Regions from separate parts of the Homo sapiens genome. Here region 2 is linked to region 1. The links come from fine-mapping of genetic effects on gene expression. A gene starts in region 1. The other region holds a variant in brackets. All regions are shown on one strand. Distances are between the middles of the regions.

What was found. PIP is the estimated chance that this variant, and not a neighbour inherited with it, causes the effect.
Region 2: its variant is fine-mapped to the expression of RAPH1 in whole blood (TOPMed, PIP above 0.99).

The regions. Positions count from the first base shown.
Region 1 is chr2:203,525,919-203,542,869 of GRCh38, forward strand. It overlaps RAPH1 (Ras association (RalGDS/AF-6) and pleckstrin homology domains 1), which reads right to left and starts at 9,383. Exons shown (of 14, transcript NM_213589.3): 1 at 9,193-9,383. RefSeq lists silencers at 9,152-9,251, 9,322-9,411, 9,462-9,531.
Region 2 is chr2:203,493,777-203,510,727 of GRCh38, forward strand. RAPH1 (Ras association (RalGDS/AF-6) and pleckstrin homology domains 1) reads right to left here. Exons shown (of 14, transcript NM_213589.3): 2 at 1,458-1,577. The coding sequence starts at 1,577. Among named protein-coding and RNA genes, the nearest start is that of RAPH1, 33 kb to the right of the region's middle. The variant G/A (reference allele first, on the strand shown) is at 8,277.

The sequences.
Region 1 (16,951 bases):
AGGCAAAGAAAACAGAGAGAAGGAAAAGATAAAGAGCAGGGTAATGGAAAATGTTGTATACCTTGCTGGAGGTGTTCCGAAAAAAAATACTATGGACATGAAAAAACTGTAAGTCTATAAAATGCTACTCAATTACTAAGTTAAATACTTAATTTTTTATTTTTAATTAAGGGTACTTTTAAATTCACCTTGAATAATTCCTAAAAGGATAATGCAAAATTCAAATTTAGGCTTCTGAAATAAGCCTATAATTTCGACTGTATTGAAGAATAAATTTTATTAAAGTCTCAATTTGCTAACGTTTTTTAAAAAAATGTTTTATTACTGTATGTGTTGAAAAATTATAGGTATATACATTTATGGGGTACAAAGTGATATTATGATTTCTGATATAATGTGGAATGATTTCACTTTGCTGAAATTATCTACTTTCTTCCACAAACATTACTTTCCAATTAGTATTAGAACCAGAATGTCTTGTCCCAAGTGCTTTAAGATGACTTCATATAAGAATACTATACACTGGCCAGGCGAGATGGCTCAGGCCTGTAATCCCAGCACTTTGCGAGGCCAAGGCAGGCAGATCACCTGAGGTCAGGAGTTCAAGGCCAGCCTGGCCAACATGGTAAAACCCCATCTCTACCAAAAATACAAAAATTAGCCGGGTGTGGTGATGGGCACCTGTAATCCCAGCTACTTGGGAGGCTGAGGCAGGAGAATCACTTGAACCCAGAAGGCAGAGGTTGCAGTGAGCCTACTGCAGTGAGATAGGAGCGAAACTCTGTCTCAAAAAAAAAAAAAAAAAAAAAATACAATACACTATGAAGTGGAACTTAATATGAAAGGCTCATTATTAACAATTTTTCTTTTTCTTTTTTTTTTTTGAGACAGAGTCTCGCTCTGTCACCCAGGCTGGAGTGCAATGGTGCGATCTCAGCTCCTGCAACCTCTCCCTCCCAGGTTCAAGCAATTCTCCTGCCTCAGCCTCCTGAGTAGCTGGGATTACAGGCACATGCCACCACACCCAGCTAATTTTTGTGTTTTTAGTAGAGACAGGGTTTTGCCACATTGGCCAGGCTGGTCTAGAACTCCTGACCTCAGGTGATCCGCCCACCTTGGCCTCCCAAAGTGCTGGGATTACAGGCGTGAGCCACCGTGCTTGGCCTAACAATACTTCAGTAAGACTGTATAGTAGTTTCCAAAATGGTTACCTCCATTTATACCCCAGGATGTATGAGTGATGATTCACTGGGGTATACGAACATCTTATTAGAAGTTCTATTTTTATTTAATCCTTATCTTAATACACACATGTATTTTATATATAATACATATTTATCCTTAACATACAGACACTGGCGTCTTCACCGTGGCCACCTGTCAGAGAATCACACACCATACAAAGTAACATAAGTATTCTGGTATTAAATAATTGTAGGTATTGTGAGGCTAGAGTGATAGTAATTACTATCTTTAATACATTGATTCTTTTTCAATAATAAAGGATCTACCCTTTTGTAAGCTTCTACGAGAGACTGGTATTCCAGAGAAGACATATTCTCAACAGTAAATGATTTCCTCAATAAAAACGTTTTATGTGCTGGCCGTGGTAGCTCATGCCTGTAACCCCAGCACTTTGGGAGGCTGAGGTGGGCGGATCACCTGAGGTCAGGAGTTCGAGACCAGCCTGACCAACACAGAGTAACCCCGTCTCTACTAAAAATACAAAAAATTAGCCGGGCGTGTTGGCGCATGCCTGTATTCCCAGCTGCTCGGGAGACTGAGGCAGGAGAATCGCTTGAACCCGGGAGGCGAAGGTTGTGGTGAGCCAAGATTGAGCCATTGCACTCCAGCCTGGGCAACAACAGTGAAACTCCATCTCAAAAAAAAAAAAAAAAAAAAAAAGTATAGAAAACTGTATTATATAATCCTTCATGAAGCAGCTGCTTTGACCTCAATGAAACAAAGGTGGAGGAGAGGGTAAGGTTTAAGTCCAAGGGCAAAGCAGAATAAAAGAGAAACTGAAGCAAGAACAGAGCCAAGTGTTAACGGATGTTGTTATTGATGTTGTTAAGGAGTGATCATGGTATTTTGTACCAAACAGGTTTGTCTCATGGCAAATCATTTAAAAAATTGTGCAATTTAAAGATGAAGTAAGCATTTATCTTTTATAAAAAGAGTAGAGTTCTAAATTTGCTGAATTTCTGTTGTAAGTGGCTGTGCTGTGGCAGTATGCTACCTAGACATAGTTTCTAAAAACAGAAACATGGTTAATGCATCTGTACCTTAAAGGTAAATGAGACATTTTAAAACTTAGTAAGAAAATAGCTGTATTCTAAAAAAAAAAAATGTGTCATCTTAAAATACTCATATCTACACACTCTAAGAACAGAGAAGCCATTTCTAACTTTTTAAATGCCTTCCAAACACAGTTTTGGTGGATTTTGAATCCATTTATTAAAACTTTATAAATACAAATCCTCACACTGATTTGCAAGAATAGCTGATTGACAAATAGGGAGAACAAACTTTGTACTAGCCCAATCTGCATAATTGATGGATACAAACTTAACAGTATCTCCTAATAGAAAGTACAGCCGAAGAGGCACTTCTTCTTTTTGGATATATGTTCCTACATGAGCTGCCTTGTCAGCTAAGAGAAGCATTAAAAACCAGTAACATAATAAACAGATTCAAGAGCCAGATTTGGAAATTTCTGTGTTAATGAGTACTATAACCAAGATTTTTCAAATATAACGTATCATATTCATTGTTGCTGCCTTAAACTGTATATGTTTATTCTAAAAACTTAGGGTAAAAAAATTTTGAACCATTACTGCTTATTAAGTACACTATTCACAGATAAGTAGGATCACTGATTTCCTTTACCAGTTTCCAATGTCATTTGTTACAATATGAAATAAACCAAATGAGCCAAGAAATAATTATCCTTTATAAAGTAAACATTATTGGAAAATTAGAACAAATTATATTTGGGAAACATGCAAAATTTGGGATATATAAAGAATATATTTTCAAGTCATATTACTGGTTGTTTTGCTATATATATATATATATATATATATATTTTTTTTTTTTTTTTTTTTTTTTTGAGACAGGGTCTCACTCTGTCATTGCAGCCTTGACCTCCCAGGCTCAGGTGATGCTCCCAATCTCAGCCTCCCGAGTTAACTGCAACTACAGGCACACATCACCATGCCTGCCTAATTTTTGTATATTTTGTAGAGACAGGGTTTTGCCATGTTCAGGCTGGTCCCAAACTGGGCTCAAGCGATCCACCTGCCTCAGCCTCCCAAAATACTAGGATTATAGGCATGAGCCACCGCACCTGGCCTGCTCTACTGATTTAACCTAATACTTTTCTTCACTTATCAAACTCAGTAAAATCCTTCTAAAAGTAATTTCCAAAAGCATCCAAGTTTTTTATTGGTTTTGTTTTGAGACAGAGTTTTGCTCTCGTTGCCTAGGCTGGAGTGCAATGGCGCCATCTCGGCTCACCGCAACCTCCACCTCCCAGATTCAAGCAATTCTCCTGCCTCAGCCTCCTGAGTAGCTGGGATTACAGGCATGCGCCACCACGCCCGACTAATTTTTTGTATTTTTAGTAGAGATGGGGTTTCTCTATGTTGGTCAGGCTGGTGTCAAACTCCCCACCTCAGGCAATCCACCCACCTTGGCTTCCCAAAGTGCTGGGATTACAGGCATGAGCCACTGCACCCGGCCAAAGTTTTAAATACCATTGCAAAATTGACTTAAGATTCTACAATAATACTGGGCCTACTGAATATGTTTACAGTCCAATTTTTGCTAGCTATCACCATTCTTCACCATGGGGCTTAAATTTTAATAGTCTAACATAATGGTAAATCCTTGGCTTCCTGATCTTGTTTTTCTTCTCATCTAAAGGGATGACTTGTTCCTCCTTTTGTAAACTTTATCTGTTCACCCATTTTCAACTCAAAGACCCTTCTGCTTCTTTGTGGTCCCTGCGTCTTCAGTGTCATCTTCTACTGATTCCTCGTATTTTATACCTAAACTGGCATCCTCTCTATTGTGGAGAACAGAATACCTATCTTAGATTTCTCTATTATGCCTAGCTCTGCTTAGAGCAGAAAAACAGTATGCATTTTATTAAGAGCAAATACATATATACTTTTCAAAAAGCCAATTTATAAGACATAAGTGATATAGTTTAAGACATCTGCCTTAAAGCATGAAAAATACCTTAATAGCAAGAAGAGCATATGAAAAAGCTTTAGAGATCATACAGTCTGGAGTTTTAAAAACTATTTCACAACAAAACTCATCCAGATGAAATTTTACACAGCCTCTCAAATATATAAAGCTGGCAAAAGCATTGCTATTTTATGTTCAAATACATTATGTTAATTTATTGTAAACTCAAATAAAGAGATAAACTAAGGGTTAGAGATGTTAAACAATCCATTTATTTTTGTATGCTTTGTTTTGATTTCACCCAGGTAAGCAGTTGCAGCTCTTAACAGTCCCATCTACAGTCTTCAGGATACTCTTCAAATACACTGATCCAAATGTTTTAAACAATAAAAGGAAAAGCTTTATTCTTAGGAATTTCTGCCCCATCGCACCCCCAAAATTAGCCACGTATAACCATGTAGCACTATGGTCTTCAATGTGTTAAAAAAAATTTAGGCCAAGCGTGATGGCTCACGCCTGTAATCCCAGCACTTTGGGAAGCCGAGGTAGGTAGATCACCTGAGGTCAGGAGTTCAAGATCAGCCTGGGCAACATGATGAAACTCTGTCTCTACTAAAAATACAAAAATGAGCTGGGCACGGTGGTGCATGCCTGTAATCCCAGCTACTCGGGAGGCTGAGGCAGGAGAATCGCTTGAGCCTGGGAGGCAGAGGTTGCAGTGAGCTGAGATTGTGCCATTGCACTCCAGCCTGGGCAACAGAGTAAGACTCCATCTCAAAAAAAAAAAAAAATTATATACACACATGCATACATATAAATATACACATGTGTATATATGAATGAGTATGAGTGCCAGAACCATTCAATGGGGAAAGGACAGTCCTTTCAACAAATGGTGCTGGGAAAACTGGATATGCAAAAGAATGAAGTTGGACCCTTACCTAACACATTTGCAAAAATTAATCCCAAATGGATCAAAGACCTAAACATAAGAGTTGAAACTATAAAACTCCTAAAAGAAAACAGGGAAAACCTTCATGACATTGGATTTGGCTACAGCCTCTTGGATATAACACCAAAAGCACAGACAGAAGAAAAAATAAATTGGACTTCCTCAAAATTTAAAACTTTTGTGTTTGGGGAGTGGGGGGCTGGGGGAGGGATAGCACTAGGAGAAATATCTAATGTAAATGACGAGTCAATGGGGGCAGCAAACAAACATGGCACACGTATACCTATGTAACAAACCTGCACGTTGTGCATATGTACATCAGAACTTGAAGTATAAAAAAAAAAATTTGTGCAAAAGGATACTATCAAGACAGTGAAAAGATAACCCATAAAATGGGAGAAAATGTTTGCAAATCATATATTTGATAAGGGATTAATATCCAGAGTGTACAAAGAACTCCTACAACTCACCAAAAAACAACCTACTTTAAAAATGAGTCAAGGACTTGGATAGACATTTCTCCTCAGATATACAAATGGACAATAAGCATACGAAAAGATGCTCAACATCCCTAATCATTAGGAAAATTCAAATCAAAACCACAATGAAATACCACACCACGCCCATTAGAATAGCTATTATCAAAAACATAAAAAGAAAAAACACTAGAAAAGAAGTGTTGGCAAGATACAGAGAAACTGGAACCTTTGTGCATTGCTAGTGGGAATGTAAAATGGTGCAGCTGCTGTGGAATGCAATATGGCAGTTCCTCAAAAATTAAATATAGAATTAGCATACAATCTAGCAATCCCATTTCTGGGTGTATAGAAATACTGAAAAAAGAACCGAAAGGAGGGATTCAAACAGTTGTATACCAATACTCAAGGCAGCATTATTCACAGTACCCCAAAGGTGGAAACAACCCAAATATCCATAAATGTGGTATATACATACAACGGAATATTAATCAGTCTGAAAAAGGAATGGAATTATGATACATCCTACATGGATGATCTTGAAGACAGTGTGTTAAGTAACATAAGCCAGACACAAGAATCAATATTGTGTGAGTCAAAAGTAGAAAAGTTGTTACTAGGAGGGTAGGGTAGAGGGAGGGAAGTGGATAGTTACTGTTTTGTTTTTGAACAGGGTCTCACTCTGTCACCCAGTGTGCATGATCATAGCGCACTGTGGCTTGTAGAATTACTGTTTAATGGGAAGAATTTCAGTTTGGGATGATAAAAAATTTCTGGAGATGGTGGTGATGATGGCACAATAATGTACTTAAGCCACTGAACTGTACACTTAAAAATAGTTAAAATGGTAATTTGTATGTTATGCATACTTTACCACATTTCTTTCAAAGAGTATATGTGTGTGTTGCTTTAGTGGCAGTGTAAAAACATGGTTAAGAATACAAGCTTAAGAATTAGGCTGCCCGGTTTCAAATCCAGCTCTGCCACTATAGCTCTGCAGTCTTTGGGCAACTTATTGTCTGTGCCTATTTTCTCAAATAATAGACTCTATTTCATAGGGTTATGGCGAGAATTAAATAAATTATCACATATAAAGTGTTTAAAACAGTGTACGTCATACAGTGGCCACTTTTTATTATTATAAGTTTAAAATACATTTTTATTGAGATTAAAGTCAAACATCTGCAGAATCTCTGAAATTCTCAAGTTCAGTGAAACAGTTTAAGAAGCAGTGATCTAATCCAAACTTCTCATTTTATAGGTAAAGGAATTAAGAGTCCAAGATAAGTTATCTGCCTGAGGTCACATCTTGCTTCACTAATATTAATTTTCCTAAAATTAAGTGTTTGGGATTAACAATACTAATGTTGACATTCAATTACTTCCAAACCAAGGCAACCAAAGCCATGAGATTCTACAATGTGTAACCAAGAATCTGTGAATAGTGTGACAGTTATCCACGATGCCAATCTAGTAAGTATTTATGGGGTGAGCACCAAAGGGCAGCAAAACCAAAAGACATAATCATCCTCAAAGACAATGGTTAAAAACACCTCTTTGGAAAATAAAGAGTTAAATATTTGTGAAAACACACCCAATAGTGCCCACTACTCCACTCCTTTCACCCAGTCACATACTCTATAATCTTAGTGAGACCTCTGAGTCTGAAAAATAAGCTGCTGCTTCTACCAAATAAAGCTAACGTTTATCATAAGGCAACATCTACAAATAATTCTTTATTACATTCAAACAGGAGACAGCAATCTAAATTATACAAAATGTCTAACCCAAAAAATCATGAATTAAGCTTTTTGTACTTACTTGAGTAGGGCTGCATCTGGTTTCTGGGAAATTCACCACACAAAAAGCAAAATAACGGAGACAATCTTTGAAGGTCAGACTCAACAAGAGTTAAAAGCTATTGAGCGTCTCTATTTTGCCCCTCCCCCAAAGGTCCTCCCCCTCAATTCGGCTCTCAAAGGATAGCACCACCATGTGAAATGTCCTCCTCCCCATCTGAATCTGCTGAAATCCTACTCATCCTTAAAGGTTTCACTTAAATGCCGAGGCTTCCATGCATTCCTCCCTCAATTTAGAATTAATCTCTCTTCTTCGCTCTCCTATTCTATACCTCAACATTTTACTATATAGTTCACTGTATTACACTTACCTACATTCACTAACCCCCCGCACCGCACCCCCAAAAAAACCACCCCGAGGAGGAAAGGAATTTAAGGTGCTGTTAAACACCTCTATGCCAGGCAAGGTGCTACGCATTTTGCATACATTATCTCATTTAATCTACATGAAAAACATCTGGGGAGGTAAACAGGTGGTGTTATTCCCATTTTACTGATAGGGAACGTACTGCAGAGTTCAATAGCTTATCCAACTCACATTGCAAGCCAATTCCAGGGCGTACGGTTTCCCCCACTCCGAAGAGCTCTTTCCACCACCCCATGCTTGTTCACCTGGTGTCACCCAGCCTAACTGACAGAGTAGGTATTCCATAAATGTTTGCTGAATTTAATATCCCCATGGACTGACTCTTTAATAATCCGATCACGCCTCATCCCTAACCCGTTACCTTTACTGTTCCTTAACGGTGGACTTTACCTACATAAGCAGCTCTCCACATTTCCCTGAGAAATGCTGCAGACAACATCAACCCTTATTGGAAGATTGAGTGAAGAACTTTTCCATTCTCCCGGATTTCCCCAACGGATCTTCCCAAAGAATTTAAGAAATGCACACACGCAAGACACATGTAACACTTACACCCTCCCTCAAGGCTCTTATTTCATATTAAACCATGTCTTCGAGCTTGTAAGCAATAAGGTTTATGCGGTTTCCAGCTCACACAGTGGGGACACCCTAAGTCACTGCCTTAAGAAAACCACATCTTTCAACCTGTCTTAACACGAAGGCATCCTAATACTATCACACTGCCCCCTCCCTCCGTCCACCCCCCCCCCCCCCCCATGAATTGCAGTTTGGATTTCCGGCGGGAATGTATAATACAGACCGCAAGAGGAGACGCGGTTAAAAAGCAATGAAGCAATTACTTATCCTGTTTAATTAGAAAGAAGACACAGAAGGAGCCCCGCCTTTCAAAATCTCTGCACTGAACTCATCTATGAAAGATGGGGGCATCGAAACCCAAGCAACCCGACATCCAGTAGCTGGTTTCTGCAGCTGGGCGGGGGAAAGTCCTTTCCTCCCTGCGGTCCCGGGCCACCAGCCCCCGGTGCTGGGTCGGAGAAGCCTAACCGCACCCTCCCAGGCGGCCCCTTATCTCATTGTCTCCCTCCGTCGCGGTCCCCAGGGGCGCAGGGTGCAGTCCAGGCCCCACCGACCTCCATCCACCAGCCGGGAGCGGTCCAGCCAGCCCCGGCCCGATCCCCAACCTGGCAACGACCCCGCCCCAGGCTGCCGCCGACCGTACCGCACCCGGATGGCGGGGCCGGGCGCCGGGAAAATGGAGGCGGGAGCGGCAGGAGCGCCTCACGGCCCCGCGCCCAGCCGGCTCCCTACCCCCTGGCCCCGAGGGCGAGGCTAACCACTCACCGCGGCAGTCGGTCGGCCTTCCCGCGGCCCCGGGCAAGGAAACCGCCGCTCGCGCTCCTCCAGCCGCTGCCTCCGCCTCCTCCCCAGGCGCGGCGCTCCCTCGCCAGAGACGCAGCGACTGCCAGCAGCTCCCGCGCCGCGCGCTCAGTGACTGACTGACTGACTGACTGACTGACTGACTGACTGACTGGCGGGCGGCGGCGGGAGCGGGGGCGGGGCGGCCGCAGCGCCCCGCGGCGGCGGCGGCGGCGGCGGAGCCGAGTGTGCTCGCGTCCAGCCGAGACGCAGAAGGCGGGGTTGAGGGCCGGACTGCCGACTGTAGGGCCGACTCGCGCGGGACCGCGCGCCGCCCCCGCCCGCCGCCAACCACTCACTTCCGGCGCAGGCCGCCGCGCCCGCCGCCCTTCCCTAGCCCGCGCCCCGCGCCGGCCCTCCGCCCTCCCTTCAGGCGCCCGGCCGCGCCCGGCCGCACTCAACCGCGGCTCCGCTCGTGCCTCGCCTTTCCTCCGCAAGTCCCTGTGAGCCGCCTACAGGAACGAGTGAATCAGAGAATGAATGAGTGGGGAGGAAAATCCCAGTGCTGCCCCACCCCCTGCTCGCCTTTCATAGGAAGCCGGCCCAGCAGCCTCTGTCCTAGCGCCCTGGGAGGCACAGCAGCCTCCAGCAGTTCTGTCAGGGAGCTGTACGCATCCACCTTTATACGCTGTCCGTGTATTCAGAGACTCCAGAAACGCATCCGGGGTTGGCTCGGTCACTTACAGGACCATTGTCGTTGAGATCTGTGAGGCCCTTCTTTAGGAAATCCCATTTTGGCCAAAAAGTCTCTGCAGTTTCATGGAATGTATTGGGAAACTTAGGAACGGGACATTTCGATGACCTTTACTTTTTAAACTTCGAAATCTGTTAATCCTGCCTCCTTAATTTCTGTCCCCCCACCCCATCGGAATTGTGTAGTAGTAAGGTGTCGGCATTTTTCCTTATCGCTAAGCTCAGCTGCTGCCTCTTTAGATGCAGGCTTGACTTCGGCAGACTTTTAGATTTTAAGTATGTCCTTATTTTGACCTTCACCTAAAGTTGATCAAAGAAAGGAACAAATGGAACTAAGTTATGTTTGCTTGGCTACATGCAAAGCAAGTTTGTTGACAGCATTAAAACAATTGAGAAATTGGGAGTGTGACCTGAAATTGGTTGCAATGAACATTGCTTTTTCATGTCTTCCCATCTGCTTGCTAAGAATTTATTTAAATTTTCACAAAGCATTGACTGTACATTCCTGAAATCCTAGCTCCCTCTCTAAGAATGAGAGTGTTCATTTCTCTGTCCTGGGGCCAAATCCTGGTTTGGTTAATTACATTCTTACTTCCTGATATTCTTGAGGACTTTCAAGTGGTTTCAGTCTTTTTTGTACAATCTGTTCCAAACTGGTACACAATCTGTTTCAAATTGGTATTTAGAACCATACAATACAGATACTGGCTGCCTTTCACACTTGAGATATCTGTACTTTTGAAACATAACTGCCCTTTTGTATTTTAAGTTCAGTAGGTATGTCAATATTCTTGTATAGAATAATACTATCTCTTGACTGGATTAAGAAAATGTGGCACATATACACCACGGAATACTATGCAGCCATAAAAAAGGTTGAGTTAATGTCCTTTGTAGGGACATGGATGAAGCTGGAAACCATCATTCTCAGCAAACTATCGCAAGGACAGAAAACCAAACACCACATGATCTCACTCATAGGTGGGACTTGAACAATGAGAACACTTGGACACAAAGCAGGGAATATATCACACAGGGGCCTGTTGGGGGGATGGAGAGGGGGGAGGGATAGCATTAGGAGATATACCTAATGTAAATGATGAGTTAATGGGTGCAGCACACCAACATGGCACATGTATACATATGTAACAAAGCTGCACGTTGTGCACATGTACCCTAGAACTTAAAGTATAATAAAAAATAAAAATAATAAAAGAATAATACTATCTCTTATAAATGAAGATGATCCTGCTGACCAACTTCTTTTAGACTTCTCTTCCTTTCTTGTGGGAATCATCATTTGCCACCTAATTATTTCAAGAAGTTATCCTCCAAAAGTGAATATAATACAACACTTTATTCATCCTTGTATCTCCCACAATATCTAGCATAGTATCTTGCACAATAAGTATTTATAAATTAATAAATGCTTTAAAATTTTTCATAAGTGATAATTTTATACAAATGTATCTAGTCTTTCACCTCATTTCCCTTGTGACCAAGTTTGTTGACATTAGACACACCTGGGTGCCAAACTTAATGAATCCTATTGTCATTAAATGTACTAGGCTGTGTGATACCTTACAAGGAAGATGATTCATTTAAACCTCCTTAAAAAAATAGACGATTGAAGCCAGGAGTGGTGGCTCGCACCTGTAATCCCAGCACTTTGGGAGGCTGAGGTGGGCGGATCACCTGAGGTCAGGAGTTGGAGACTAGCCTGGCCAACATGGTGAAATCCCATCTCTACTAAAAATACAAAAATGAGCTGAGCATGGTGGCGGGTGCCTGTAATCCCAGCTACTCAGGAGGCTGAGGCAGGAGAATCACTTGAACTTGGGAGTGGAGCTTGCAGTGAGCCAAGATCCTGCCATTGCACTCCAACCTGGGTGACAAGAGTGAGACTCCATCTCAGAAAAAAAAAAAAAATAGACCATTGAGTGCCTTTTACATAGGTCTTAGCCAACTCTTCTCCAAGTGCTTAGCCTAAGATCAAGGTTAATTAAAAGAGAAAAAAGGTCACTTTCAGTCATTGAGAAAAGAGTGTTCTCATCAGTTTCTTTAAACCATTAAATCATTCGTTCATTCAATCAGAGTTTATTAAGCTACAATTAAGGCCCAGGAATACAAAGACAAGAAAGACGTGGCATGATGCTTCCTGCCTACAAAAAGCATACAGTCTAGTGGGTAAAGCAGGTAAGGAAGTCATTGTTAGACTGGAAGTCCATTACCAGATCAGGAAAGCCTTCCTGATGGGGAGATTCTTGAACTGAATGTTAAATGATAGGGAGGAGCTAACCAGAAGAAGGAGGGAACAAGCATTCCAAACGAAGAAAACAATATCTCTGCAGGTGTGTGGAAGCACCAAGCATCACCATGCTTTAGAGGCACCGTAAGTGTATTAGTCCGTTTTCATGCTGCTGATAAACACATACCTGAGACTGGGAAGAAAAAGAGGTTTAATGGACTTACAGTTCCACATGGCTGGGGAGGACTCACAATCATGGCAGAAGGTGATGAGGAGCAAGTCACATCTTACATGGATGGCAGCAGGCAAAAAGAGAGCTTGTGCAGGGAAACTCCCATTTTTAAAACCATCAGATCTCATGAGACTTATTCACTATTATGAGAACAGCACGGGAAAGACCCACCCCCATGATTCAACTATCTCCCACTGGGTCCCTCCTACAGCAGGTGGAAATTATGGGAGCTATAAGATGAGATTTGGGTGGGGACACAGAGACAAACCGTATTAGTAAGTAATTCCATTTTGTCAGAACAGGCATAGAGAAGAGTCAAAGAGGTTGGAGGAAAGGGTAGGAAGGGCTTCATTCATGAAGGGGCTCTTGTTAAACTAAGGAATTTGAATTTGATACTCTGGGAAATGTAGTAAATAATAAAATATTTGAAGTATTTTAGCTCCAGAACAACTGAGTTTGTGTTTTGGAGACCAAGAAGACCAGACTGGAGCAGGAGAAAATTAGGAGGTGATGGCAACAACCTGAATCCTAATGAGATGTGTGCTGCAGGTCTCAATAAAATCAAGAGGTCATAAAATGGCGAGGAGGGACTAGATGGGAGATATATTAAACAGGTAGAATCTACAGAATATATAACTGGATATGAGGGAGTGAATGCAACAGAGACATTTAGAATGACTCTCAGGATTCTGGTTTAGAAGAGTGACTGAATGGTGGTGACCTCTGAAATAAAGAGCGTGGGAAAAGAGCAGGTTTCAGGGAACTGGCTGAATACCTGTATGAGAAAGAATAGTACCATAAATCCAGGCATCTTAGTCCATCATTTCCCCAAGTGTTCTTTGGAACTCTAGTCCCACAGGATTTTAGTAGATGTGATTCCCCCTCAAAATTTTAAGTTCCTTTAATCAAATGAGAATGCCAGACAGTTCAATGGGTTTCTAAACTAGAGAGATTTCTGGTGGTTTTAATATTTTAATGTGCACTGGGAATTTCTGAGGTAGATATTATATACAAGCGCTTTCCAAATGTATTCAACCATGAAACCCTTTTTCCAATGGAACATCTTACAAGACATGTGTTCCACAGCACATACTTTGGGAAATGCTGACCTAAACCAGATTTTTGGTTTATAGTAAAGGAAGCTGTAGCTTAAGGCATGAAGTGACTTGTCTAAAGTTAAACAGCTATTACTAGAAGATACTGGACTAAGGTCCAGTATCTTCTGACCCCAGTCACATTCTCTTTCCAGTACATACTGCTTTATGAGTTACAAACTCAATTCCAGCACCTTCCACCAATCATGGGGAGAGGAATAAAAAATTATGGAATATATCGTTTTAAATGATGTTTCCAATCAGTCATTTTTAAAGATATGCTAATTTTTAATGGTTAATATTTTACATAAGATAAAAAGATTTGTACATTGGAGAAGTGGGACCGATTATCACCTTCATATGATCTTTCTGATAATTGAACAGGAGACTTATAAAATTAAATTGCCTAACTAAATAGAATATTCATCTAGTCGTCCTATCCCTGAAGTAGCTTTAAATAAAATAAACTTTCAGGAATTGATAGAAACATTAAAACTCTCCCCAAAAATATTAGTGTTTTTTTGTTTTGTTTTATTTTGTTTTTTTGAGACGGAGTCTCACTCTGTTGCCCAGGCTGGAGTGCAGTGGCACAAACTCGGCTCACTGCAAGCTCTGCCTCCCGGGTTCACGCCATTCTCCTCCCTCAGCCTCCCGAGTAGCTGGGACTACAGGCGTCCGCCACCACGCCTGGCTAATTTTTTGTGGTATTTTCAGTAGAGACGGTGTTTCACCGTGTTAGCCAGGATGGTCTCGATCTCCTGACCTCGTGATCCACCCACCTTGGCCTCCCAAAGTGCTGGGATTACAGGCGTGAGCCACCGCGCCTGGCCAAATTTTAGTGTTGATTTTATTCCACCTGCACATGGAAGGAAATGTCTGGTACTATGAAAATCCACACCAGATTTTGACTTCCTCTCTGGCACAATTCCCATGATTCTGAAAACTCTAATAGCTAATGGATGAGAGAGTTTTCTTATCCTAAATTCATATTCTTAATTCTCAAAGGAGGAATTTTAGTACTGCCTATTCTTAGAAAAATGAGACAATATTTTTTTTCAGGAGACCTCTTAGGACTCTGGGACAAATTTTAAGAGTAGCTTCTATAGATATTATCTTTGAAACAAGTTATCAGCATTTTAATTTATGTTTCGCACTTTATAAAGTATTTGTTTCATTTCTGAATGCTATATTCATTTTTAGTAGGCAGATCAAGACAATCATATGCGGTGTAAATATGTTGAGTGAATGAGTAATTAATTACTTTATTTTTTATTTGTTTTGGAGACAGAGTCTCACTCTGTTGCCCAGGTTGGAGTGCAGTGGCACAATCTCAGGTCACTGCCACCTCTGTCTCCCAAGTTCAAGCGATTTTCCTGCCTCAGCCTCCCAAGTAGCTGGGACAGCAGGTGTGCATTACCATGCCCAGCTAGTTTTTGTATTTTTAGTAGAGATGGGGTTTTACCATGTTGGCCAGGCTGGTCTTGAACTCCTGACCTCAGATGTTCCACCCACCTGGGCCTCCCAAAGTGCTGGGATTACAGGTGTGAGTCACTGAGCCCAGCCAGTAATTACTTACTTTAAAACTTCAGTAGCTATACGTCATGGAGAAAACACTATTATTATTATTATTTATCTTATTTATTTGTTTTTTTTTGTGTGTTTTTTTTTTGAGACGGAGTCTCACTCTGTCACCCAGGCTGGTGTGCAGTGGTGGTATCTAGGCTCACTGCAAGCTCTGCCTCCCAGGTTCACGCCATTCTCCTGTCTCAGCCTCCAGAGTAGCTGGGATTACAGGCGCGTGCCACCACGCCCAGCTAATTTTTTGTATTTTTAGTAGAGACGGGGTTTCACCATGTTAGCCAGGATGGTCTCGATCTCCTGACCTCATGATCTGCCCGCCAAGGCCTCCCAAAGTGTTGGGATTACAGGCGTGAGCCACTGCGCCTATTATTATTTTTGAGACAGAGTCTCGCTCTGTCACCAGGCTGGAGTGCAGTGGCACGATCTCAGCTCACTGCAACCTCTGCTTCCTGGGTTCAAGTGATTCTTCTGCCTCAGCCTCCCAAGTAGCTGGGACTACAGGCACACACCACCATACCCAGCCATTTTTTTGTATTTTTAGTAGAAACGGGGTTTCACTATGTTGGACAGGATGGTCTCAATCTCTTGACTTCGTGATCTGCCTGCCTTGGCCTCCCAAAGTGTTGGGATTACAGGTGTGAGCCACCGCGCCCAGTGCAAAAACACTATTATTAATCCATTTATCAAATTAATTGCATTTATTTATTTAATATTCACTGCGTCTCCAGCTGTGTCTAGAATCTCTAGAGAAATACATGAAATAGTCTCTGATTTTTAAAAATCATTCCACCCATCGTTGACAAGGATGGGAAGAAATAGGCACTCTCACACCTGCAAGTGGGAATATAAATCATTGCAACCTTTTTCTATAGGGCAGTTTGGCAACAGATATTCAAAGGAGTAAGAACAAAACATTAGCTGGGATATTGTGGGATGATGACAAATATTTGGAAAGCCCCTAAATGTCTAGCCATGGGAGGTTGTTTAAGAAAATGAAGGCTGTGGCTGGGTGCGGTGGCTCACGCCTGTAATCCCAGCATTTTGGAAGGCCGAGGCCGGCGAATCACCAGGTCAGGAGATCGAGGCCATCCTGACCAACATGGTGAAACTCATCTCTACTAAAAATACAAAAAATTAGCCAGGCGTAGTGGTGCATGCCTGTAGTCCCAGCTACTCAGGAGGCTGAGGCAGGGGAATGGTTTGAACCAGGGAGGAAGAGGCTGCAGTGAGCTAAGATCATGCCACTGCACTCCAGCTTGGTGACAGAGCAAGACTCTGTCTTAAAAAAAAAAAAAAAAGGACAGAAAATGAAGGCTGAGCATGGTGGCTCACACCTGTAATCCCAGCACTTTGGGAAGCCAAGGTGGGCAGATCACCTGAGGTCAGGTGTTCAAGATCAGACTGGCCAACATGGTGAAACCCCGTCTCTACTAAAAATACAAAAATTAGCTGGGTGTGGTGGCGTGCACCTGTAATCCCAGCTACTTGGGAGGCTGAGGTGGGAGAATTGCTTGAGCCTGGGAGGCAGAGATTGCAGTGAGCCAAGATTGCACCACTGCACTCCAGCCTGGATGACAGAGTGAGACTCTGCCTCAAAAAAAAAAGAAAGAAAGAAAGAAAATGATGATTTGTAGATTTTTTTTGATAATGAAAAGATGTTCACAATATGTTGATTAAAAAGTTACAAACATTATGTACAATATGAACCCATGAGAAAACATATGGGAAAAACCTAGAAGGAAATGCAAGAAGACAAAGTGTTTATTGCAGAGTGGTATGATTGTGGTACTTTCTTTTCCTACTTTATCTTTTAACAACAAATTTGTATTCTTTAAT
Region 2 (16,951 bases), 32 kb before region 1:
GCTTGGCTAACATGGTGAAACTCTGTCTCTAATAAAAATACAAAACCAGCTGGGCATGGTGGCGCATGCCTGTAATCCCAGCTACCTGGGAGGCTGAGACAGGAGAATTGCTTGAACCCGGGAGGCGGTGGTTGCACTGAGCTGAGATCACACCACTGCACTCCAGCCTGGGCGACAGGAGTGAGACTCTATCTCAAAAAAAAAAAAAAAAAAAAAAAAAAAGAAAAAAGAAAAAAAAAAATCCCCCCAAAATACAGTATTAACAGATTATGGTCACAAAGATGTCTGCCTTTCAAAATGATCTAGCAAGAATTACACGAAGAGTTTATCACTTTGAATTCTAGATTGCTGCAGAAATAAGCTGCTAGTAATTTAAGCTTCCACCTTGCCCACTTTGCTTTTCCTTTAGTTAAGGAATCTCATACCTACGCAATTTTACACAAATGTTCTTTCCAAAGACATTATTTATGAGTAAATAAGTTTTGTTCTAATGTTCTCATTGCCATGAAGTTAAATTTATTTAATAAACATAACCATCTTCACACAGTGAATATAATGTATTACTGGGGCAATAATAACAGTACCCTTTTATTCTAAAAAGTGTGCTGGTTTAGAGGACAAGGTCACCTTCTTTAAAAACCCAAGATCGAATAAAGCAAAATGAAAAGATTTTGCCACTGTTTTAAAATGCAGCCCAGAATTAGGTTTTGTCAGTATTCTACAATCATGTCATAGAAAATATTTACATGGGGCCAGGCATGGTGGCTCACGCCTGTAATCCCAGCACTTTGGGAGGCTGAGGTGGGCAGATCACGAGGTCAGGAGATCGAGACCATCCTGGCTAACACAGTGAAACCCCGTCTCTACTAAAAAATACAAAAAATTAGCCGGGCGTGGTGGCGGGCGCCTGTAGTCCCAGCTACTCGGGAGGCTGAGGCAGGAGAATGGCGTGAACCCCGGAGACGGAGCTTGCGGTGAGCCAAGATTGCGCCACTGCACTCCAGCCTGGATGACAAGAGCAAGACTCCGTCTCAAAAAAAAAAAAAAGAAAAAAAAAAAGAAAAACAGAAAATATTTACGTGGAAGGAAATTATTTATGTTGAAAATGTATTCAAATTTACTAAGGTAACAGGGTTTTCTAAAATTTAGACTTTTGAATTTCAGGCTTTAAAAGTTTTTAGCTAATTATCTCATATTTATGAAACATATATTAAGTAACCCCTCTAGATGAACAGAGCCTCTCTCACAAGTATTTTTTTTAACATCCTTAAAATAACCATAGATTCTTAATATCTTCTGTTCTAGAATGACTTCATTTACTTGTCAATACTTCGAACATTTCTTCCTTTCTGGCAATACTTTAAAATTTAACTTATATCCATATCCTCTTCTGCACATTAAACTTTTAACACAATGGTGACTTCAAATCCTCAACCAGTTTTTCAAGCACTACTCACCTGAGTGAGTTTGTCTAGTTCTCCAAGCCAGGCTCCAAACATTTTGTCCAGGTCCTGATCTTCCTTGTCACTGTCTTCTTCAGCACCATGATCAATTTCTTCATCTGATAGCTGCTCCATCTGAAATACAGACATTTGTGTAGAATGAATAGTAAGTTACAGGTTTAACTTGAAAAATTATGCCATATATGCTCTGATATATATTATATGCCTCTGAAGTCAAATCTTCAAAACTAGAAATTACATTCTAAAAGAAAATCTTAAGTCATTAATGGAGACAGTGTTCACAAGTGAGTAGAAACAAAGAATAAAGTTTCAAATTTTTTAGGAAACTGTAAAAGAAAAGCCAACAGTATCAAATTATGACCAGAATCGCATTACTAAAAAAATTAACAGAGCACCCCTTTCAATCAGCAGAGGACATAACAGTAGTACAGTTCTCTCCACTACTAGATCCTAGGACACCCAAACACCACAAAGAAGCCATTTCAGAAGACTTTAATGGAGCAAATTATTGTCCTGTTTATTCTGTAAAAATCTGTTTAGATACCAATAGGTACCCTGCAAAACCTTAGTCCAACAAGTATTTAAGAGAAAATTTGACAAAACAAAAATCTTAATCTAGTTTTGTTTCTTTCTATTCTACCCTCCTACCCTCACTTTCTATCCCATTTGTCTTCTTTCTCTACCTTACTTCCTCATCAGTTCCAACAAAACCCAAAAAGGAAACAGAATTGAAAACTTCTAAATCCAGATCCAAATCCTGTTATGTGGTGACTTTTCAAATATAAGTCCCTTGAAAGAAGAAATTATCTTCCTTCTTCCCATTAATAAAATAGTGTGGCTGGGCGTGGTGGCTCACGCCTGTAATTCCAGCACTTTGGGAGGCCGAGGCGGGTGGATCAACCTGTGGTCAGGGGTTTGAAACCAGCCTGGCCAACATGGCAAAACCCCGTCTCTACTAAAAATACAAAATTGGCAGGGCGTGGTGGTGCATGTCTGTAATCCCAGCTACCTGGGAGGCTGAGCCAGGAGAATCACTTGACCCTGGGAGACAGAGGTTGCAGAGAGCCGAGAACATGCCACTGCACTCCAGTGTGGGCAACAAGAGTGAAACTCCGTCTCAAAAAATAAATAAATAAAATAGTGTGATATCTGACATGGAACTTGCACATTATTTTGAGAAGATGGGAAGAAAAATTACATAAAACAATGTAAGATCAATGACTGATTAATCTGATAAATATAAATATTTCAATATTAAAGGCCCTGGAAAATCTTCAAATAAACACTAGCTTTGCTTAAACCAGCCAGCATATTCCAAAATTAAAATTAAAATCAGGCAGGCATGTTAGTATGAACTTGAAACAAATTAAATGTTTTTTTTCTTCAAGTTAGCAGATTATAAACCCTGGTTTACAAAGTTATGGTAGGTATTTTATGTTTCTTAATATCATAGTTACTGACTAAAATCTGATAAAATTTTATTTGTTAGAAAAACCAGCATATTCCTAAGTTATTTGACCACAATCCCTTTTCCTTCAACTTCTGTCCCAGGGACACAATGAACATCATCACCATATGTTACATTAAATACTCTTGACTCACATTTCTAAAACACGAATTTTGTTATGGTAGATCTAGGCAATATTTGGAATATAGCCTGTCAGCTGGTTTAAGCAATTCCTCCAAGATTATATATGGTGTATGGGCATTCCATTAAAAAAGATATGCCTAATCTTTACTAACTTGATATACATATGCCATGGTGTTAATGTGTCCCTTCCAAAACTCAAGTGTTGCCAATGTGATAGTATTAAGGGGTGGGGCCTTAAAGAAGTGATTGGGCCATAAAGGCTCCTTCTTTATTAATGGTATTAAGGATTTTATAAAAGAGATTTCATGAAGCACTGGAGTACTTTGTTCTTCCACTCTTCTGCTATGCAAGAGCACATCTCGTGCCTCCCTGTGGAGGAAGCCAGCAACAAGCCCTCACCAGACACCAAATGCCAGTGTTTTAATAATGTACTTCCCAGCCTCCAGAATAGTAAGAAAATTAATTTCTGTTCTTTATATATTACCCAGTCTCAGGAATTTTATTGCAGCAGCACACATGGACTGGTATCTTCAAAGCAGCAATCCACAAAATTATATCTGGGATCCTTAAAGGTTAGGAGAAAATGTAAGGAATCTAATTATCTGACATGGTATCATCAAGTTAAATTTTCAATCTTATTTCACTATATAAAATTTTGCAGAAAGGGTCAAATAATGTTACAAAATTAAACTGAATTTAGTTTTCAGATGCTGAAAATCATATCATATCTCATTTAATTACTTAAGGGAAATAATTTTCTAATTCTCCTAATACTGGGAAGAACCACAGCTAACCAATATCTCTAATAAATATATCTCTAATAGAAACTGATAATTTCCATTTCTTAATCTTTTATCACTCTAATCATATATAAATCAGGTCATTCTACCCTGGCAAGTGAAAAATGGATCTACCAATTTCCCAATTCATAAATGTGATTCTTAAGAAGATTTGGTTTTTACAATTTGTAACAATATTATTTCTAAGATTTTATTCATTACTATATAATTGATAGGTCAATCTCAACAGAAACTTGGTATCAGAGTTCATTAAGTGATCTACCCAGGAAAAACATAAAATGTTACTGAAAAGAAAAACCTCATCTGACCAGATGACTTAATTACTCAAATAGGTGCTAGTTTGAGAACACTCAGGAGCAGTAATAGCCAGTTTTCATAAAGAAGGTTAATAAGTAATATAATCTGGAATATACTTGCTTTTACTTCCTAATCTTTCAAACTAAACACATTGGAATAACCCAGAAAATATCCTAGGAGGAATTCTGTTTTGAGAGAGTAATACTTATTCTTAATTACATTTTATATCTCTTAAGTACATTTAAAACAACTGGGCCTGCAGCACTGTTGTCCAACAGATACCATTATGTCACTATTGGCAGAAACAGCAGCTTTAGTAACTTTAATGAGTATTTTAGGCAATAATACGCAAGGCACTGGGTTTATGGTGACTATATTCTCCATAGTAAAAATGTGGTCACATGATATTTAGGTGACTCATCATCAGGAAAATCTGTGATGTATGAACATCGTAACACACACTAAGAGGAAGTTATAATCAAAGAGAACAGGGAGAGAACATTAGTCATAAGCCTCCACGAACCATTGTGATAGGCAGGTATTATATCATTCCCATTTTATAAATGAGGAAAGCTAATCAGAAAGGGTGGCAAGCTCCGTTCTTGGAGAAGGGCTTAGAGGACAGCACTCCAGGTCTGCTGTTTCAAACAACACCTCCGATTTCAGGCATCTTACAGATAGGGCTTCCACATTAGATATCATTTAAACCAAGAGTTCAAATTTTTAAAAATGATTTTAAGAAAGGTTTAAATCCTGGACTTCTGAGAACAGAGTGTAACTGCCCATAAAAAAAATGCCATACTGGGAAAAATAAAACAACACGAAAATAACATTGTAAGATAAATATAAAATAGTTCAAATTAAAGGAATAATTTAAATTACAATGGAGCCAAAGAGAACTACAGTCATGTGCTCATAATGATGTTCAGATCAATGACAGACTGCTTATACGGTGGTCCCATAAGTATTTTTACTGTACCTTTTCTAGGTTTAGATACCATTGTATTACAATTGTCTATAGTGTTCAGTACAGTAACATGCTGTACAGGTTGTAGCCTAGGAGTAACAGGCTATACTCTACAGCCTAGGTGTGGAGTAGACTATACCACCTGGGTTTGTGTAAGTACAATTTATTATGCTGGCCCAACAAGTGCTTAATGAAGCATTTCTCAGGAAGTATCTTCATCATTAAATGACACATGACTGTACAGACTCTGCATCCAAAGCTAGCGTGTTTTAAACTGAGTTTTTTTCCTACTGTTCAAACAGGCTATTTTAAAAATCCCTTTAAAAATTTTCATTTATAGTTTTGTTTTGATCTAGACTACTACTGCCGACTTAAGGAAAATATCGCTAGAGAACATGACAGCAATGACAGAGAAACATAAAATTAACAGAAATTTTGAAAGTATCTATTGAACGTTAACTACTTAAGTTACTTTTGCCAATTTTGTCCTATTTTCAATTTGTCCCTATGTGGATTAGTTTAACAGCAACAAAAAAAAAAAAACTGGCCGGGTGCAGTGGCTCACACCTGTAATCCCAGCACTTTGGGAGGCCAAGGCGGATGGATCACCTGAGGTCAGGAGTTCAAGACTAGCATGGCCAAGATAGTGAAACCCCGTCTCTACAAAAATTAGCTGGGCATGGTGGCGGGCGCCTGTAATCCCAGCTACTTGAGAGGCTGAGGCAGGAGAATCGCTGGAACCCAGGAGGCAGAGGCTGCAGTGAGCCAAGATCGTGCCATTGCTCTCCAGCCTGAGTGACGAGTGAACTCCATCTCAAAGAAAAAAAAAACTTAAGAAACTTACTCAGAGACTTTCCAAAAAAAACTTAGGTCCTACAACATTTCTTAAAGAATTCACACTCTAAAACCACTCTCCATTCTCTAAATGCTGATGTTGATGAACCTTATTCTCCAATTCCCCAATACAGCTTAATTTCCACTAACCATACACATCAAATGAGGTGCCCCCAGACATTTTCTTATAGGCTGGGCACCATCTTGGGTCAGCCCTCTAAACTTAAAACCACATGAACATGCTCAGATACAGGACAGCAGAGTGCTATCAGAGCCATTTCCATGGGTCTAGAGTGCTCAATGTTCCAAAGACACAAGAGAAGCTTTGATTTCATTGAACATTCACCATGCCAGACACTGGAGGAACAGAGATGAACATGACAACCTCTGTCCTCAAGGAACATATAATCTAGTAGGGAACAGAAAAGGAAACCAACAATGATGAAACACTCTGTTAAGTGCTATAAAAGAGGTATGTTAAGTGAGCGTAGTTTAACTCAGTTTGAGAAGATAGGAAAGTGGTGATGCTTCAGTGGAGACCTGAAGAGTGAATATGTAAGAGAAAGGAGAAGGGTGTTTTAGGCAGAGGAACCAACATATACAAGGGTATAAAGACGTGAGAACAACATGTTAGAACTCAAAGTGACTTAGCATTTCTGAAGCATAGGATGGGTGGTACAGACTCATGGAAAATGAGGCTAGAGAGGAGGAAGCGGCAAAATCCTAAGCCATACCAAAAACTTTGGACTTTATCCTGTAGGGCAATGTTATTCCAATTGTGGTTTGTTGATGACCTGCATCAAAATTACCTGGGGTGCATCTTTTAAAGTCAGTTTTAAAATGGCCCACTCAAGATCTACTGAATACTAATGTCAAGAGGATGGAATATTTTCAACAAGTTACCCAGGGTATTGCTTATACTCACTTAAGTTTAACAAAATATAAACAACTATGTTGTTTAATAATTACTGGGAGCTCTTGCAAGACAGTAAGTAATGCCATTTTGTGTAACCACAATTTGGTTAAAGGTAAATGTGGACTCCTTAAATAAGTACTAGAATGAGTACTCCTTAAAACCATAAGGAAATCAGGTACCATGAGGATCCATCATTAACACACCCCAATTATTCCTCTTCCATTACCATAGTCTCATGCTTCCTCTCACAGTTATTCATTTACAGATAAATTTTAGTTCTTTATTTCCAGTTATGTTTCAGTAGCTTTCTCACAAAAATGGTTTTAGAAACACCTCCTATGCTGTTCTAACCTTAAAAATAATTCTAAAGAAAAACATGCACTAGAGAAAGGGGCAGGAGGGAGGTGAAGACTTCCATGTTCAAGGAGTACCCCAACTGTGCAAGTTACAACTGTTGCAAAATAAAAGCAAGAGGAAGGAAACGTAAATCAGACTAGAGAAACAATAAGAAAAAAAATGTTAAATTTAGTAAGGCACAAAAAGAGGAAGAGGACTCATCAAAAGGAGGAGAGAGGAAGTCAGAGCAGAGAAGGGAAAGGAAAGGAAAGAAGTAGGACACTCATAATGTAAAATGGAAAGATAACTGTAGGGGATTAATTACTTATCAGATGGGGCAGTGCCTGGTATGCTTGGTTTCTTTCTCTCATTACCTACAACTACACTATTTTAAAACAAGACCTTTAGTTCTGCTGTGAATGAAGTGCTGTTATTTATAAATTGCCCAAATGGAAACTGGGAATTTAATAAACCGTCTGGGAAGTTTTAAAAATGAATTTGCATGGTCAGGTATGGTGGCTCACGCCAGTAATCCTAGCAACTTTGGGAGGCCAAGGCGGGCAGACTGCTTGAGCCCAGGAGTTTGAGACCTGCCTGGGCCACATGGCGAGACCTCATCTCTTAAAAAAATAAACATAATTTTATAACTTTTGCTCTTAATTTATAAAGTAGATGAGTTAAAAAAAAAAGTTAAAAGTTGCTTTTTATATATCCATCACTGAAGTTTCCTCTGTAGATTAGTGACCCTCAATAGAAAGGGCCTACAGAAAGGTTCTACTTAGGATCCAAACCTTCGAAAATACTCTGCCTACAAAGCATCAAGCTAAGCATTATGAAAAAAAAAAAAAAAAAAGGCAAAAAAACAAATACAAATTCTGTAACTTCAAAGAACATTAATACTAACTGTGGGAGAACAGGGCTCCCTGCAGCCTTGACCTTCTGGGCTCAAGCAGTCCTCCTGCCTCAGCCTCCCTGAGTAGCTGGGACGACAGATATAAGATATCTTGATTAACAAATTCTCTAGCAACAAAGTTCCTTTTGTAGACCAGTGCATGAAGCAAATTTAAAGGAA[G/A]CTACAGTCTCCTATGTGTTGAAAGGGACTAAGAAGGAAGCAATGTGCTATGCTATTCAGAAGCTTCATAGAAGCAAGCCTGAATTAACTAGCTACCAGGGAACTTGCATGGATGGCCTGGTCCTCAGAGTGAGCTGACACCTGGAACTCAGTTTTGTAAAACTGCCAGATGGAACCAAACCTTCCTAACAGAGAGGTATGCTATTCTTGGGCCAGTCACGGTAAATTCTTCTTTACCCAGAGGACAGAGAAGTACTAGGAAAGATGATTTACACCCTTATGCCATCTCTTTGATTTAAGCCTTCATTTCTGACAACCCAGGATGTAACTAACACATCCTCTTCACTATCATCTACATTAACTGTGAAGTAATTTAAGATCACATAATGAAGCATAAAAACAAACTAGAACTATTTTAACAGTTGGTAGAGATTGTATTGCCTAAGAGTTATAAATCAAATTCAAAGGCAATTTTATTAATGTTTTATTTATCAGGCACTTAAATGAACCCCTTAGAAAAAGAATTTGGGAGGCCGAGGCGGGCGGATCACGAGGTCAGGAGATTGAGACCATCCTGGCTAACACGGTGAAACCCCGCCTCTACTAAAAATACAAAAATTAGCCGGGTGTGGTGGCAGGTGCCTGTAGTCCTAGCTACTCGGGAGGCTGAGGCAGAAGAATGGCGTGAACCCTGGAGGTGGAGCTTGCAGTGAGCCGAGATCTCGCCACTGCACTCCAGCCTAGGCAACAGAGTGAGACTCCGTCCCAAAAAAAAAAAAAAAGAATTCCTTTTACAGAAAGGTGAACCAGGCCGGGCACAGTGGCTCACACCTGTAATCCCAGCACTTTGGGAGGCCGAGGCAGGCGGATCACCTTAGGTCAGGAGTTCGAGACCAGCCTAACAAGGTGAAACCCTATCTCTACTAAAAATACAAAAATTAGCTGGATGTAGTGGCTGGCAGGCACCTGTAATCCCAGCTACTCGGGAGGCTGAGGCAGGAGAATCACTTGAATCCAGGAGGTAGAGGTTGCAGTGAGCCAAGATCCCGCCATTGCATTCCAGGCTGGGTGACAGAGCGAGACTCTGTCTCAAAAACAAACAAACAAACAAACAAAAAAATGAAAATATGAACCAATTTTAATGAGAATAAGCATTCCTTTATTTACATTAGATTTTCATAATATTGGATATTCTTAATCTATTAAACCGCAAACAGGAACTCCCCATCTGTATTAGTCTGTTTTCATGCTGCTGATAAAGACATACCAGAGACTGGGAAGAAAGAGGTTTAACTGGACGTACAGTTCCACATGGCTGGGAGGGCCTCAGAATCATGGCAGTGGCAAGACAAAATGTGAAGAAGCAAAAGTGGAAACCCATGATAAACCCATCAGATCTCATGAACTTATTCACTATCACAAGATTAGCACAAGAAAGACTGGCCCCCAAGATTCAATTATCTCCCCCTGGGCCCCTCCCACAACACATAGGAATTCTGGGAGATACAATTCAAGTTGAGATTTGGGTGGGGACACAGCCAAACCATATCATTTGGCCCCTCCAAATCTCATGTCCTCACATTTCAAAACCAATCATGCCTTCCCAACAGTCTCCCAAAGTCTTAACTAATTTCAGTATTAACCTGAAAGTCCACAGTCCAAAGTCCCATCTGAGACAAGGCAAGTCCCTTCTGCCTATGAGCCTATAAAATCAAAAGCAAGCTAGTTACTTCCCAGATACAATGGGGGTACAGGTATTGGGTAAATACAGCCGTTCCAAATGGGAGAACTTGGCCAAAACAAAGGGGTTACAGGGCCCATGAAAGTCCAAAAGCCAGTGGGGCAGCCAAATTTTAAAGCTCCAAAATGATCTCCTTTGGCTCCAGGTCTCACATCCTGGTCACGCTGATGCAAAAGGTGGGTTCCCATGGTCTTGGGCAGCTCTGCCCCTGTGGCTTTGCAGGGTACAGCCTCCCTCCTGGCTGCTTTCACGGGCTGGCATTGAGTGTCTGAGGCTTTTCCAAGTGCACAGTGCAAGCTGTCTGTAGATCTACCATTCTGGGGTCTGGAGGACAATAGCCCTCTTCTCACAGCTCCACTAGGCAGTGCCCCAGTGGGGACTCTGTGTGGGGGCCCCAACCCCACATTTCCCTTCCGCACTGTCCCAGGAGAGGTTCTCCATGAGAGCCCCACCCCTGCAGCAAACTTTTGCCTAGGCATCCAGGTGTTTCTATACATCTTCTGAAATCTAGGCCGAAGTTTCTAAACCTCAGTTCTTGACTTCTGTGCACCCGCAGGCTCAACACCACATGGAAGCTGCCAAGGCTTGGGGCTTCCACCCTCTGAAGCCACAGCCTGAGCTCTATGTTGGCCCCTTTCAGCCACAGCTGGAGTGGCTGGGACACAGGGCACCAAGTCCCTAGGCTGCACACAGCACAGGGATCCTGGGCCCGGCCCACGAAACCACTTTTTCCTCCTGGGCCTCTGGGCCCTGTGATGGGAGGGGGCTGACCTGACGGTCTCTGACATGGCCTGGAGACATTTTCCCTGGTCTTGGGGATTAACATTAGGCTCCTTGCTATTTATGCAAATTTCTGCAGCTGGATTGAATTTCTCCTAAAAAAAAAAAAAAAGTTTGTCTTTTCTACTGCATCATCAGGCAGAAAATTTCCTGAACTTTTATGCTGTTTCTCCTTTAAAACAGAATGCTTTTAATAGCACCCAAGTCACCTTTTGAATGGTTTGCTGCTTTGAAATTTCTTCCATCAGATACCCTAAATCATCTCTCTCAATTTCAAAGTTCTACAAATCTCTAGCGCAGGGGCAAAATGCCGCCAGTGTCTTTGCTAAAACATAATGAGAGTCACCTTTGCTCCAGTTCCCAACAAGTTCCTCATCTCCATCTGAGACCACCTCAGCTTGGATCTTATTGTTCATATCACTATCAGCATTTTTGTCAAAGCCATTCAACAAGTCTCCAGACAGTTTCACACTTTCCTACATTTTCCTGTCTTCTTCTGAGCCCTCCAAACTGTTCCAGCCTCTGCCTGTTACCCAGTTCCAAAGACACTTCTACGTTTTTGGGTATCTTTTCAGCAACGCCACACTCTACTGGTACCAATTTACTGCATTAGTCCATTTTCAGGCTGCTGATGAAGACAAACCTGAGATTGGGAAGAAAAAGAGGTTTAATTGGACTCACAGTTCCACATGGCTGGGGAGGCCTCAGAATCATGGTGGGAGGCAAAAGGCACTTCTTACATGGCGGTGGCAAGAGAAAATGTGGAAGAAGCAAAAGTGGAAACCCCTGATAAACCCATCAAATCTCATGAGACTTATTCACTATCACAAGACTAGCACAAGAAAGACTGGCCGCCATGATTAAATTACCCCCCCCGGGTCCCTCCCACAACACAGAGGAATTCTGAGAGATACAACTGAAGTTGAGATTTGGGTGGGGACACAGCCAAACCATATCACTAAAGTGGAAAAATACAATTTAGTTCAACGCTCTACAAAGAAACCCCTAACATCCCTATATATAAAAAGTTCTGATTATCTTATAATTAACTATTACACAATATGCCATAAAGCATTATCTGAAACCACAGAGTAGATAAAAAACTATAAAAACTGAAAAACAACAAATAATTGATTGTGTTGTTTATATTCCAGATTCTCAATTTCAAGAGCTGTGAGACAGTAAATTTCTGTTGCTTTAAGCCACTCAGCGTGTAGTAATTTGTTACTGCAGCCCTAGCAAATGAATAGTTACTATACACACACGCGCGCGCACGCACACACACACACGGCTGCTCCACACTTCAGACCTTTTGCTGTTATACTACATAGTGTAGCTATTTAGTTATTTTTGCAGACAGCTGATGTTGTGCATGTCCACTCCAGCCTCAACTAGAAGTAGAAGCTGCAACTTCATTCCTCTTAGAGAAAACGGTCTTGAAACTATGGAAAGCCTCACGAGGGAGGCAGCAGTATTTTTCTTCACTTTTGTCCTACCTATTCCCCTACCAGATGGCCAAACGCACTGGCAAGAAATCCAATCCCAGAGGCAACCCATGCTTTGAGAGGAAAGGGGGTAACAAATAGACGTAGCCTATAGCTTGGAAGTCATTTGGATTAGGTATTGAATTATCAGTATAAATAAACTCAAGGTTTCAAACAGACAAAAAGATGGGCAGAAATAAAGACAGAGATGTGTGTATTATGTGTTTGTAGGTATGTCCACTGAAAAAGCCTGGTGGCAATGACACCAGGTAATTAATTAGCACACTTGGTTCCCAGTTTTTGGTTTCAAAATACTGTATACACTCTACACAAAAAGTAACAGACACCTGGAGTAGTAATTCCAGGGCAGGGCAGGGAAAAAAAACAAGATGAGATCTTGCAGTGAGCAGAGATCGTGCCACTGCACACTCCAGCCTGGGCAACAGAGCGAGACTCCGTCTCAAAAAAAAACAAAAAACAAAAAACAAAAAACAAGATGAGCCTCTAGAACATCATCTAGTGGCAAAAAGTCCTCAATTAATGATAGGCACATGTCAAATGGACACAGGAACCAGCCTGAAGGCCCAGATCAGGGGTCTAATCTGTGAAAAGTTAAATACTGAAATAAATTATGATAGAAACAAATTATAATCCACTGACTAAAATCCATATATAGATATATATCTATATATATATATATCTATATATATATCTATATATATCTAGATATATATATCTATATATATATCTATATCTATATATCTATATATATATCTATATCTATATATCTATCTATATCTATATATATATATATATATATATAGATATATATATATATATATTTTTTTTTTTTTTGAGATGAACTTTCACTCTGGGTTGCCCAGGCTGGAGTGCAATGGCACAATCTCAACTCATTGCAACCTCCACCTCCCAGGTTCAAGCGATTCTCCTGCCCCAGACTCCCAAGTAGCTGGGATTACAGGCGCCTGCCACCACACCCGGCTAATTTTTTTATTTTTAGTAGAGACAGGGTTTCACCATGTTGACCAGGCTGGTCTTGAACTCCTGACCTCAGGTGATACGCCCACCTCGGCCTCCCAAAGTGCTGGGATTACAGGTGTGTGCCACCGTGCCTGGCCACAAAATCCATATTGAATTAAATAAAATATACACAGTAAAGAAGAAAGCTCTTACTTACTGTAGAATGCCAACTACTTAATGTAGATGAAATGACAAAAAAAAATCACCATTTTGCAACCACTGTTATAATTATAAAGTATTTATTTTAAAAGTAATTTAAAAACCAAGTTGCTAAGTTTTAAAAAATCAAGGCAAGAATCATCAATAGAGGCTAAAACTAGTAGGTGAAAATTTGATGACATATATTCTCAAAATATCTCCCCACAAATTACTCAGAAGACAACCTTAACCAAGTGACCAAAATATCATCACTACAAAGGCAAACCAACATCAGAGGGTTCCAGTTATAATGCATTGGGAAGGATACAACATCACTGTAGTTATTCCTGCAAAAAATGCAGTACCTGAATCAAATCATAAGAGACATTTTACAAAATAATTGGCCAACACTTTTCAATAATGTGATGGCCAAGAAACAAAGAAAGGCTAAGGAAATGTTCCATATTCAATGGAACTTAAAGAGACATGACAACTAAATACAATGCTTGAACCTGGACTGGATCTTAGACCCAGGGAAAATATCTAAACATAGCCATAAGGACAATGTTGGAACAGTTGACAAAATATGACTGGATTAGATCACAGTATTGAATCAATGTTACATTTCCTGATTTTGATAACAGTATTGCAGTGACGTAAGAGAACATCTTTGATCTTAAGAAATATACACTGGGGCCGGGCACGGTGGCTCATGCCTGTAATCCCAGCACTTTGGGAGGCTGAGGCGGGCGGATCACCAGGTCAGGAGATCAAGACCATCCTGGCTAACACAGTGAAACCCCATCCCTACTTAAAAAAAAAAATACAAAAAAATTAGCCACATGTGGTGGTGGGTGCCTGTAGTCCCAGCTACTTGGGAGGCTGAGGCAGGAGAATGGCGTAAACCCGGGAGGCAGAGCTTGTATAGTGAGCTGAGATAGCGCCACTGCACTCCAGCCTGGGCAACAGAGCAAGACTCTGTCTCAAAAAAAAAAAAAAAAAAAAAGGAAGAAAGAAAGAAATATACACTGGGGTTACAGGCATGCACCACCATGCCTGGCTAATTTTGTATTTTTAGTAGAGACAGGGTTTCTCCATGTTGGTCAGGCTGGTCTCGAACTCCCAACCTCAGGTGATCCGCCTGCCTCGGCCTCCCAAAGTGTTGGAATTACAGGCGTGAGCCACCACGCCTGGCCTTGAGGTTGTTTATATTCTTCTTACAACTTTTCTGTAGGTTTGAAATTACAGTTTTCCCTTGGCACCAGGGGGACTGGTTCCAGGACCTCCACCTATACCCAAATCATGCATACTCAAGTCCAGTAAACCCTCCATATACGTAGGTTTCACATCACCACAATGATCCATGTTTGGCTGAAAAAAAATCTGCATACAAGCAGACCCACACAGTGCAAACCTGTGTTGTTCAAGTGTCAACAGTATATCAAAATAAATTAAGAAAGAGAGAGATGAAGGAGGAGAGATAAAAAGAAAAAAGTCTTTACCCTCAGAAAGCTATAATTAGGAAAACAGTGTGTTAACAAATAGATCATCTAAATTTCAGAAATAAATTTAAGGAAAAGGAAAAAAAGACAAGCTATAAAACACTTTTACTAAATTAATACGTTTAGTCTAAGGACACTGAAAAATAATTGTGTATTTCTCCAATATATGGTTTTTATTATGTATGCATATGCTCCCTTTCCTAAAGTATATTTGCCTTGCTTACTCAGTTAACCTTTTTAGCTTATTTATAAAAATTTAGCATCTTAGAAAGATATTTATTCATCAGACATCCTTTCACAGATGCAAAAAGAGTCATTTAAAAAATAATTTTTTTTTTTTTTTTTTTTTTTTAAGAGAGAGTCGCTCTGTCACTCAGGCTGGAGTGTGGTGACACGATCTTGGCTCACTGCAACCTCTGCCTCCCAGGTTCAAGTGATTCTTGTGCCTCAGCCTCCTGAGTAGCTGGGATTACAGGTGCACACCACCACACCTGACTAATTTTTGTATTTTTATAGAGATGAGATTTTGCCATGTTGTTCTCAAACCCCTGGCCTCAAGGGATCCAACCACCTTGGCCTCCCAAAGTGCCTGGATTACAGGCGTGAGCCACCACACCCGGCCCTAAAAAAATAAGTAATTTTTTAAAAAGTTCGTTAACATCACAAGTAGGTCAGAAAAAAATCAGAATTCGGTTCCAAATCCAAAGTTAGTATTTAATTAAATTGAAATGCTTACAGTAAATACAGACTTCAAGATGGGTATTTTTAAAGATGTTTTGATTATTAAAACTGTGTTACTTTTGTTACTGTCAGAACAAAAGGAGTAAAACAGTAAATCACTTCTATTTTGCATTATTCATTAACATATTTCCTGACCTCTTCCCAACATCCAGATAGGAGGTATTACTAAAGTTGATCAAATATCCCCCACTGATATAGTTTGGATGGGTATCCCTGCAAATCTCATGTCAAATGTAATCCCTAATGTTGGAGGTGGGGCCTGGTGTGAGGTGATTGGATCATGGAGGTGGTTTCTCATGAATAGTTTAATACCATCCCCTTGGTGCTGTCCTCTCAATAGTGAGTTCTTGTGAGATGTGGTCATTTAAAAGTGTGTGGCACCTCCCCCCTACTCTTGCCCCTGCTCCGGCCATGTCACCTGCCTTGTTCCCCCTTCACCTTCTACCATGATTGTATAAGCTTTCTGAGGTCTCCCCAGAAGCAGAGCAGATGCCAGCATCATGCTTCCTGTATAGCCTGCAGAACCATGAGCCAATTAAACCTCTTTTACTTATAAATTATACAGTCTCAGGTATTTCTTTATAGTAATATGAGAATGGCCTAATACATACAACCAAAAAAGCTTCAAGATGTCTGCTTTCTGTTTCTATCTCATAAATGTAAAATTCCTAGGAAAGACATTTTACCACTCATTACTGATAAAAGATACATTTAATACTGTCGGCGCCTGCCTGTAATCCCAGCTGCTCAGGAGGCTAACGTAGGAAAATTGCTTGAACCTGGGAGGCAGAGGTTGCAGTGAGCTGAGATCATGCCACTGCACTGCAGCCTGGGTGATAGAGCAAAACTCCATCTCAAAAAAAAAAAAAAAAAAAAAAAAAGTCCTCTTGAGGTTCTTGAGGGTAATAGGAAGTAATCCCTTACCAAAGGCTGTAGTAGAGGTAGGGACCATTCATAAAGAAGCCAGAGGATTAAGAGAATAGAAATGGGAAAAAGGATGCTCTGCAGGAGAGCAGAGAGTATTCTCCAGGGTGGCATCCCCCAGGCAATTAAGACATTTTCTTCCAGGGTCACTGAAACTACAAAAACAAACTCTCAAACCTGGGATGCAAACTCAAATACCTGCAGGGGTCAGGCAGCCAATATACATACTGGTGGTGGTAGTTAGATATAAACCAATAGGGAGTGGTGAGGTCTGGGAACTGTGACAGCACACCTCAGCTAAAAACACTAGAATTTTTTAAGTTT